Linked DNA regions of Homo sapiens: region 2 is reported to be linked to region 1. The links are microRNA targets in miRTarBase. Many come from high-throughput screens and were not tested one by one. Region 1 holds a microRNA gene; the other region holds the end of a gene's coding sequence.
What was found. The annotated mature microRNA hsa-miR-5006-5p reads UUGCCAGGGCAGGAGGUGGAA and lies in region 1 at 2,678-2,698, shown strand. An mRNA with a match to its seed (bases 2 to 7 or 8) in the 3' UTR can be bound and repressed. Matches are read on the target gene's strand: a 7mer-m8 pairs with bases 2 to 8, a 7mer-A1 pairs with bases 2 to 7 and ends in A, and an 8mer does both.

Region 2: miRTarBase lists NARS1 as a target of hsa-miR-5006-5p. Seed matches in the 3' UTR shown: 7mer-m8 at 1,019-1,025.

What each region holds. Positions count from the first base shown.
Region 1 is chr13:41,565,669-41,571,052 of GRCh38, reverse strand. It overlaps MIR5006 (microRNA 5006), which reads left to right and starts at 2,658; the gene lies at 2,658-2,767. VWA8 (von Willebrand factor A domain containing 8) reads left to right here. Exons shown (of 45, transcript NM_015058.2): 44 at 347-585; 45 at 2,748-4,218. The coding sequence ends at 2,856.
Region 2 is chr18:57,597,074-57,602,431 of GRCh38, reverse strand. It overlaps NARS1 (asparaginyl-tRNA synthetase 1), which reads left to right. Exons shown (of 14, transcript NM_004539.4): 13 at 1-77; 14 at 649-1,776. The coding sequence ends at 780. Among named protein-coding and RNA genes, the nearest start is that of FECH, 13 kb to the right of the region's middle.

The sequences.
Region 1 (5,384 bases):
ATTTTCCTCCTGTGTCATCTGCATCCTCCAATGTGATACCAAGTTTTATATTTTCTTATATTTTCTCACTTTAAGTGGAAGTGCAAGCTTCCACTTAAAACTAAGTGCCCACTGTGATAATTTTGGAATGATATCCTATATCTAATGAAATTCTATGCCAGATAACAAATATCACTGTATACTGTTGTCACTCAAATATGCAAATTAAATAGAACTAACTTAGAATGTACTACTCATGGGTAATAATTGGTATGTATGCATGCTCATGGTCAATAGAAAAATAATCGTATTTGTTAAAAAAGAAGTTTCTCAGCCATGGCTTTTGTGCAACTTCTTTTACCTCCAGACAATGCATGCCCACTCTCAGTTCTGCATGAGTGGGGACCACACGTTAGAAGGGACAGAACATGCCATCAAGGAAATTGTCAAAGAAGAAGCTGATGAGTACTTTGTCATAGTCTTGAGTGATGCAAATCTGTCACGATATGGAATACATCCTGCTAAGTTTGCTCAAATCCTCACAAGAGACCCTCAAGTAAATGCTTTTGCCATTTTTATTGGCTCTTTAGGTGATCAAGCAACCAGGTAAGTGTCATCTGAGCATACAGAAAAGGGCAGGTACAGAGATACTGAGTAGCTAACACATGCTGTTTTATAGGCTTAGCACCATGAGGGACAGTGAGGCAGATGGAGGAAAAACAGAAACTAAAGTTACTAGCCTCAAGGGGTTTATAATCTAGTTGAGGGGATATGTTCTAGCTTTTGTTTAGATGAACAATAATAATTTTAAATTAATTATTTTTTAGTTTATATTTAAGCCACTAATAAATCATTGACAAATTGATTTGTCACTAATAAACCGGGTAGTATTTTATACATTTGGCACTTTATGTCAAGCTCCTAAGCTCAGGCTAATCATTTTGTGTTCAAATCATATTAAAAATCGTGAACATCTACTATTTTCCTAGCATAGGAGATAGTGTGTGTGTATGAATGTCTGTACATATTAGACATATATATACACACATATGTATTATATCCCCATAGAGACATCACCTACATATATGCATGCCTGTATATATATATAGACACACTCACATGTATCCCTTCTTATTGCTGGAGAGACAAGGCAGGTGAAACACTTGGCGACAACATAAGATAATATACATATAGTTAGATACTACACTGAATATACTAAATATTCAATAGAGAATCTTATGATCAGACAATAAATACCAGTGGGTATGATCTGAAAGGAGAGATCTGGAAACACTTTCATAACTTGAACACAATAACATTTATCTTTTTGAATTACAAACAGAAAGAGCTCATGGTTTTTCTGTGTTTAAAATACCTGTAAGAAACATAAAACACCAGTGAAAGTAATCTTAAAAAAAAAAAAAAAAATCCCTGCCTAAAGCACAAAGGGCCTACGTTTTTGTTATTCCACCCCTTTTACTTTTCATACTCTGTGACTGGAAATGTTTTAATATCCAAAATGCTAGCAGCTTTTTCTCTTTCTATTCCCTTTGCCTTGCTGTAAGGTTGCAGAGCGAGGTTGAGAACAGACTTAATATCATGTAGTTACAGTCATTTTATGACATGACTTTTCATTCTTCTTAGTTTTTACAAGTTAGCACTTTGCATCTTTTAGAACCTCCACATCCTCAAACACAAACTATGCCTTTTCCACCCAGGTTTTCCTCAGCATCAGCCCAGTATTAGGCAGACAACAAGCTCAACAAATACTAGTTGAGATGAAATGGCTATTTTGTCTTTCTAGTGAACAGATCCTGTTTGAATACTTAAGAAAGCACAATAATACCCTTGTGGTTTCCTAGGGAAATGGTCCAACATCCACTGGCAAAAGATATGTTGCAGAATTAGCTGGCTTACCAGGCATGCCAAATATACGATACTACACAGGATGGTTGAATTTTATTAAATGTCATTCCAAAGCCAGACTTCACTGGCACAGTGAAAGGAGGCGTTCTTTTGAAGAGAACTGTGTCTTACAGTTTTGTTGCCTTCAAAATGGCCTTTTGTTCCAAATTATAAATTAGTATTTAAAAAAGTATCGTAACTTCAATGACATGTTATTTTTAAGGATAATTCAAATCAAAACCCATTATAAGTTTTTTAAAATTCACTTAAAAATGAGTTGGAAAAAATTTCATAAGCCTGTATAACCTCAGTGTCATTGAAGCAGTAATTGGACAATCCAGATCGCATTTCACATTGTGTGATGTGGACCAAAAAAAAGAGAGAGAGGCAAAGAAAGAGAGAAAGAACCACTCAGGGTTTGGCTGCGCAGCGTTTTTAGAGGCCTGTTTTCTAAGGAAGGAAAAGCACTTCGAAATACAGTGTAAGGTCAACATATTTGCTAGACCCGGGAGGTGAGCTGATTCCATATGAATCCCTATGGCTCTGTTATACCAAAAGAATATGAAATACCAAGAAATGGCAGTAAAGAAAGGAAGAAAATTTTTTCTTTTCAAATTCACTGACTTTCTCACTGAAAAGACCTTTCTTTCAGTTCCCTGCTTTTGCTGTGTCTTTCCTTGTTGCTCTTCCAAGCCTTTCATTGTTTAATGACGACTAATTCAATGGTAGGCAGAGAGCAAGGTATTAGAAAGTAAAAACTTCCTTTCCTAAGAAACCATTAGGGGGCTGTGGTTTGCCAGGGCAGGAGGTGGAAGGGAGCCCCATTTACAGTGGTAACTTCCTTTCCCTTTCCATCCTGGCAGGCTTCAGAGAACTTTACCAGCTGGTCGGTCTTTCGTTGCCATGGATACCAAGGATATCCCTCAGATTTTACAACAGATCTTCACCTCCACCATGTTGTCGAGTGTCTAAGAAGTGCCCTTCATCACCCTGATGACACCAGGATTTGAAATAAGACAGGAATAAAGAGTATTCTGAAAAAAAGAAGATATGGATGAAGTGAACCCATGCAGTGACTGGATGATTCCGGCATTCCTGGGTCTTCCTACACTTGCTCCGTAATGAGAATTCAGAGAAGCAGCCAGAAGGAGACTTAAACATGGAAAGATACTCCACTGATGAGTTTAGAAGTGATTAGGGCAAGCTAGTTGACCTGCACTTTATCAAAGGTTGGGGTTAAAGGAAGGTGGTTTTGAGAACTATGTGTTTGGTCTATTTCCAAAAACCTGAGGGGGAGAAAATACTTTGCTTTTGCCTTAACACATCATCTGGTCACGTTAGAAAAGTGACCCCATCAAACTGAGCCTTTGATGTCACATTCTGACACAAGATGCAAGTCTGTGCAAAACCCACCAAAATGCTCCTATCCAACAATTATTTTTATTTTCTCCCTGCTCTGTATTGACCAGAAAACAATGATTTTATAATATTTAACCCACCAAAAAGTCCCTCCAACAGCAATATCTTATGAAAGTCTGGCTGTTCTCAATAATTTCATTTTCTTGGCCAAAGCCAAAAGGAATCAAAAAATCCTTGGAGTGCTTGCCTTTCCACGTGACTTTTAAAAGGCTCTTAAAGAGCAAATGTCCTCTTCTCCTTGCTGCTAGAGTGGGAGGAGAAAGATGTCTTGCCTTAAAAGTTTACTGTTTCTTCTGTTCTTCTAGCATCTCTCAAAAAATTCACAGTACTCCATTTTGGGGTCCAAACTGTAATGCTCAAAATAATAAATGCTTACACGAAAATTATTTATTGAGAATATTCATATAAAAATTACCTAAAGCAAAGTAAAAAAAGTAAAATCAAGGTGGTATATTTGAAGTGAATGGTGATTGGAAATTTTTAGCTGTAACAAAAAGAAAGAAAACAACTTTTTTTAAAGCCTCATTCTCTTTTCTTTCAAAATGTACCTTATTCCCACACACTCTTGGGCTGACCTTTATTTTATCAATAAGCTCAATATTACTTTGTTTAAAATAAGATGCTTCAGCAAAAGTCATTCTCTCTTTAACCATATAATTTAAAAACTCCTCTTCACGATTGATAGCAAAATCAGAAACGTTAGGGCACCAGTGAGTTGAAAAAACTGGTCTTAAGTTGGAAAAACTATTATTAATAATATTATCCTATCCATCCATATCTATTGAAATTGTACAGGTCCATAATTTCATTTTAATTAATTATAGGAAAGAAGAAAAGATAATACCCATTTGTTCTATCACCCCTCTCCCTATCATTAACTATCAAATAAATAAATAAAAGCAATCTGATTTCCAACGTGGTACTACCTGGTGAGTTTGCATGGCTTTCTTGTTCCTCTAGTGAGACACCTGCTCCATGTATTGAACCATTCAATGATGCAAACAATTTCAATCCAACATGTATCTTTAAAAATGTAATTGCATTCCAACGGTCGCCACAACAGCAGCTAGCATTTACTGATGATTTACTGTGAACCAGGTATATGCTAAGTGATTGCATACATTATTTCATTCATCCTTACAACAATGCATGTAACAGGGGTATTTTTTACCTTATTTTGCAGATGATAAAGAAAGTGAGGCTCAGAGAATTTAAGTCACTTTCCCAAGATTCCTGTTACTAGACCTTTCACTAACTATTCATGGTACCATTAACATCCTCATTTTACAAGTAAAGAAACTGAGGCTTAGAGAAGTTCAAGAAAATAGGCCACACTCACAGCCAGGCAGGGGCAAAGCTGGGCCTCCAGCCTCCAGGCCCCTTAATGCCTTTGCGTCCCTCGCAGTCCCACGCCCCTTGCTGCATCTCACAAATGTACATGTCACACTCCTGCTGCCTTTTTCTCTTCCTTCCAGTGTGACTTCTCTTCTTGTACCCTGTCCACATTCACAGGGCTCTCTTCCTCTCCCTTTCCTCAGAAAGTCTATCTATCTGCCCATATTCGAGCACTCAGAGGTGTGGGGACCGAGGACATGGGACACTGTCGGGGGAACACTTCTAACTGCTGCTTCCTTGCTAGGCACAGCAGCAATCTGAGGAAGTGCCCTTCCAAGTGGCAGCTTAACCCCAAGGGATGCCCCTTAGCTAGCGGGTCACTGCCCCTGAAAGCCTTTGGAAGTGGAATCCAAGGGAGATTAAAGGAACAGCCAACCTTTAGCAAATCCTCCCCATGCGTAACTACCTGAGGAGGCAGAAGCCATTTTTTTTGACATGGAAAGAATGTTCTCAAGTAATTTAATTTACCTTTCTCGACCAGCCAGACATCCTCTGCAATTGCTATTTTTAAAAAAGCACAGTACTCCTGGCTTTTCTGATTTGTGAAGGGGAAGGATGATGGGGAAAGGGAATTGAGACTGAGAAGACGAAGAGCTTATTTTCACTTCTTGCAATACCTAAGAAGTATGTGCATTTATTATTAAATGTACTTAATTATAGACCACTCCAAGCTGTTCCCAGGCCCT
Region 2 (5,358 bases), not on the chromosome of region 1:
TTGATAGTGAAGAAATACTGGCAGGTTATAAAAGGGAAGGGATTGACCCCACTCCCTATTACTGGTATACGGATCAGGTAAAACCAATTTTTTAAGTACTCAACATTTTTTTCCACTGTAATCGTTCTGTATATATTGAAATTTTTAAAAGGGGAGAATTCAGGGTAGTACTTTGGTATTTGAATGAGCTATATTCAGTTTGCAGGTTATAATGTGGTGTGTGAATATTGCCAGCTTTGTTTTGGCCAAGTTATATGTTAATTTCATTTGAAAACCTGTTTAACGGCCGGCTTGTTGATTGCAACTGAGTTTTAAAAAATTGATCCTACCAGTATCTAGTACCCTTCTTCATTTTCCTCTTATAAATAGACATTGACTTATTTTAAAAGTTTTTAAAAATCTCTTCTTTCCAGGGTAGTACTTATTCCCTGGTTGATTTTTTCATACCAAATTATTTCTTTATGCATGGTTCATGAAGGCATAGAGATTAAGTGCTGGGATTACAGGCACGAGCCACTGAATCTGGCCATAGTTGAATTCTTAACCACAGTGAGCTAACTCCTTTCATGGTGGAAAATTTTAACTGTCTTAGATGAAAGTTTTAACTTAAGTATTTACTCCTCTTTCTTTCTTTCTTTTTTTAAACAGAGAAAATACGGTACATGTCCCCATGGAGGATATGGCTTGGGCTTGGAACGATTCTTAACGTGGATTCTGAATAGGTATCACATCCGAGACGTGTGCTTATACCCTCGATTTGTCCAGCGTTGCACGCCATAACCATTTTCTCCAGAAGCGTGGAGGAAAGATTATGAAAGGAACAGGCTCTTTAAAAAAGAAAACAAAAAGCCAGAATCTTCCTTTTTTTGTTTCATTGGGGTTTCTCTTTCTGTTTTTCTTTCTACTACCATAAAAACTATCTCAAATCACCTGAACATCAAGTGATATTAAGGTTGTCATCTTAAGAAAAAATATCCATTTTTTTCTTAAGTTCGGGAAACAAAGTTCGGGGAAAATACCTGGCATGAAACTGTAGTTAGGGATACATTTCAGCATTTTACTCACTTTATCCAAGTTATTCATTTTATTCAAGTTATATGTATGTATAATTCAACAATTTTAGATTATGGTGTAAGATACTCCAGTAACTTATCTTTCTGTCCTTTTAAGTGTACCTTGAATTCTTTGATTTATTTTATTGCATCAATGAATTAAAACAAAAATCTTGGGGGAAGAAATTGGCAATATCGTATAAAAATCTGCTCATATTAGAACACAGTATAATTCAGCAGTAAACACTAGAATCAAATGAATAGCCTTTTGTATCAGTTATTAATCTTTTCTAACTCTGCTTAGCTGCTAATAATCCTGAGGCATAGAAATTGAAGAATTTGTAAAAATAGAATTGCCTTAAAGGATTTGAAGTAAGAACATAATTTTGGGGAGAGTTTTTTAGTGATTCACAGTATCCCTCTTAGCATTAATTTAAGGTAAAGAGGCAGATTGATTTTCCCTCTTTCCTGGTAATTCCTAAGTAATTAAGAATAAATAAGTTCCAAAAGAAATTGTAGCTGGAATCTTAATAACAATTGTGAGTGGCTGTTTGAGTTGCCCCCACCATGTCCTTAGATCTAATCTGTGCTACCTTATTAACTCACAGCAGGCTTACTGAATGGCTTCATTTCAGATTTAGTTGATTTCTCCACCAAATGCATGTCATGTATTCTCAATAGGCTGTATTCCCAGCAGTCAATAAATGAACACCCGTAAAAACTCTTTGCTGGCTTAATTTTCTTAAAGCTAAACATCTCTTTGTCACATTCGTTCATGCTTTTGCAATTATTTTATCTTTTTTATGATGTATATATGTGAAATTAAGTACTACTAAATTTAGTAGATATTGCTAACGTTATATGGTAATGAGAACGAATGATTTTTTAACGTTAGATATGTGGGTCATGGTTAAATCTTTTTTGTAATCTTTTTTGTGTTACTGTTGGACACATTAGATTTTATCCTGTTTTGCAATTAAGTGAAATGACAGGTCAAAATGAGGCATTTAGGCTGGGTGCAGTGGCTCACACCTGTAATCCCTCCACTTTGGGAGACCAAGGCGGGCAGATCATCTGAAGTCAGGAGTTCAAGACCAGCCTGAGCAACATGGTAAAACCCCATCTCTACAAAAATAAAAAAGTTAGCCAGGCATGATGGCAGGTGCCTGTAATCCCAGCTACCCAGGAGGCTGAGGCAAGAGAATTGCTTGAACCCCGGAGGCAGAGGTTGCAGTGAGCCAAGATTGCACCATTGCACTCCAGCCTGGGCTATAGAGCGAGACTGTCTCAAAAAAAAAAAAAAAAACAAAGGAAGAAATGATGCATTTATAATCTATTCAGCCTGCATCTTTAAATAAAAAATACTTGGAAGAGTGTGAATGAGCTGTAGATGACTTCAACTAAGCAATTCATTTTATCAGAATTAAAGTGAAGAGGTTAGGCTCAGTTAGCCTTAATTTTAATGGTGTAAACAGGTCAAAGTTTTAAAATATTAAAGGAGAGCCAGGATATGGATAAGGGAGTTAAGGTGGTGACCTCAGGCCGAGAGACTGAGCACGGTGAGCAGCAAACCTCACGCGTGTGGACTTCACTCCCTTCGCTGTGTAGTTACTACCCTAATTCAGGTGTCACAGATGCCATCCCGCATTCCCATGGCTAGCTCACAAACACCCCTGCCCTCTCAGGACTTCCATCACGTGACTTTCTCCTCCCTGAAACTCTCTGCTTTTCATACCAAAAACCCCTCCACCTTTGGCACTTGTGTGACCTGCTCAGTTTTGGAGACAAACAGGAGGCTAATTCAATTGCTTAAATATCAACTTGCCCTCTTAAATGTCCTTCAGCCATTTCAAGCGACCCAGTTTCCCACCTTGCCGTTCAGCCCCTGCCACCTTGCTGCCTCGTAATGGTTCCTAAAAATGTTGTCCTTAATACGTAGAGTAGTTCAACTCTGTGAAAAGCAATCTTGGCAGCACAGTGGGATCATTTGGGGACCTTAAAAATAATGGTGTTTGGGCCTTACCCCAGGCCAGTTGAATCTGAATTTCAGAAATGGGACCAGGGTATTTTTTAAAAGCTCCCCAGGGGAGGTTGTTGCACAGTGAGGTTGACAGTCGCCAGGTGGCTTCCTCCTACTTCTAAACTCAACCTTAAGCCTCTCTTATTATTGCTGTAGGTTCTCTATTGATTTTGTATTAATCTCTGTAGTTGAAATGGGAACACTGAGGGCTGAGAAACTTCAAAGCTTGAATTTTGAATTGCCATAGAATAAGTATATTTCATCCAGCCCTTCTGGGAAAAAAGGGATGTCATGATATACAAATACTGCAATTTCTAGTATTTGGAAATTGCTGGTTAATGACTCAGTTTCTTATGCTGAAAAGTTTCCTTCTGCCTTATGGATCATAACCAATGTGATGATCAGGTGAAGAACATCTTTGAAGAGATATTGATAAACTTTGTTTGTGGGACAAAGACTAGTTTCTACAGTCAAAATCAAGTTTGTATTGGATAAAACTTGTCTTAGTACCCCAACTTACAGAAATGAAGGTGTTCAAAAGTTTTAGCTTTTTTTCAGTATTTACCTCCAAATTGCTAAATAACATGCTTATATTACTTTATTGATTTTTCAGTTTTAGGCGTTATTTATTGCCCTTCTCTGGCATATAAGGATTTCATTTCTTCCTTTTCCTATCCCCACCATTCGTGTTCACCCTTCTCATCTCCCCAAGTGTATTAAGCTGTTTTGGGGTTGCTATAAAAAAATACCTGCAGCTGGGTAATTTACAAAGAAAAGTGGTTTATTTTGGCTTACCGTTCTGCAGACTGTACAGGAAGCATGGTGTTGCTATCTGCTTCTGGTGAGGCCTCAGGAAACTTCCAATCATGACAGAAGGCAAAGGGGAAGCCAGCATATCCCATGATGAGAGGGAGCAAGAGATGGGGGAGGTGCCACACTCCTTTAAGCAACCATATCTGCTGTGAACTCAGTGCAAGAACTCATGTATCACTTCATGAAGAGCACCAAGCCATTCCTCCCCATGACCACCACCTCCCACCAGGCACCCCCTCCAACACTGGAGATTGCATTTCAACATGAGATCTGGAGGGGACAAACGTTCAAACCATGTCGCCATATTTCCAACTTAGTTCAATTATAATTTTGGTTGGCTGCATAGTTCACAATAGTTGTTTTCTCTTTCTGCCCAACTTTTTATTTTCCCTATACTAAATTTGTCTTATTTTTTCTTTAATAATTCAATCACAAAAGATGTTTGGATATATTGGGTTGTCTATCAGTTACTTCTTCCCATCTTCTGGAGCCTTTGCCTGCTTTAATCTGAACGAGTTGCCCTCGAGGAACATAGTTGTCATCTTGGGATCTTTCATTACCATCCTGTGTGTTCCCTTTACCTTTTTTTTTTGTACTGGACATCCTGTTTCCTGTTTTCTATGTTTCCTGATTTTTTCAGTTTACATCCTCATTTTGGTTGAGCACATCCTCCAGCAGTTTTTTTTTTTTTTTTTTTTTTTTTTTTTGAGTTGAGGCCTCACTCTGTTGCCCAGGCTGGAGTGCAGTGGCATGATTTTGGCTCACTGCAGCCTCCACCAACTGGGTTCAAACGATTCTTCTGCCTCACCCTCCCAAGCAGCTGGGATTACAGGCGTCTGCCACCACGCCCAGATTATTTGTGTTTTTAGTGGAGACGGGGCTTCACCATGTTGCCCAGGCTGGTCTCAAACTCCTGACCTCAGATGATCCGCCTGCCTCGGCCTCCCAAAGTGCTGGGGTTATAGGCCTGAGCCACTGCACCTGGCTGTCCAGTAGTTTTTTGAGAAAGGGTTCATGGAAGGTAAATTCATTGAGACCTTGCTTGTCTAAAAATGTTTTAAATCTATCTTCACATACTCTCCATAAAGAATTGTGGGTTAGAAAGCATTTTCCAGCTGGGTGCGATGACTCATGCCCATAATCCCAGCACTTTGGGAGGCTAAGGTGGGAGGATTGCTTGAGGCCAGGTGTTTGAGACCGCCTTTTTTTTTTTTTTTTGAGATGGAGTTTCACTCTGTCACCCGGGCTGGAGTGCAGTGGCGCCATCTTGGCTCACTGCAACCTGTGCCTCCCAGGTTCAAGTGATTCTCATGTCTCAGCCTCCCAAGTAGCTGGAACTACAGCCAGGAGCCACCACGCCTGGCTAATTTTTTGTATTTTTAGTAGAGACGGGGTTTTGCAATGTTGGCAAGGCTGGTGCGAGACCCAGTTGCTACAAAAAAATTAAAATATTAGTTGGGTGTGATGGTGCAC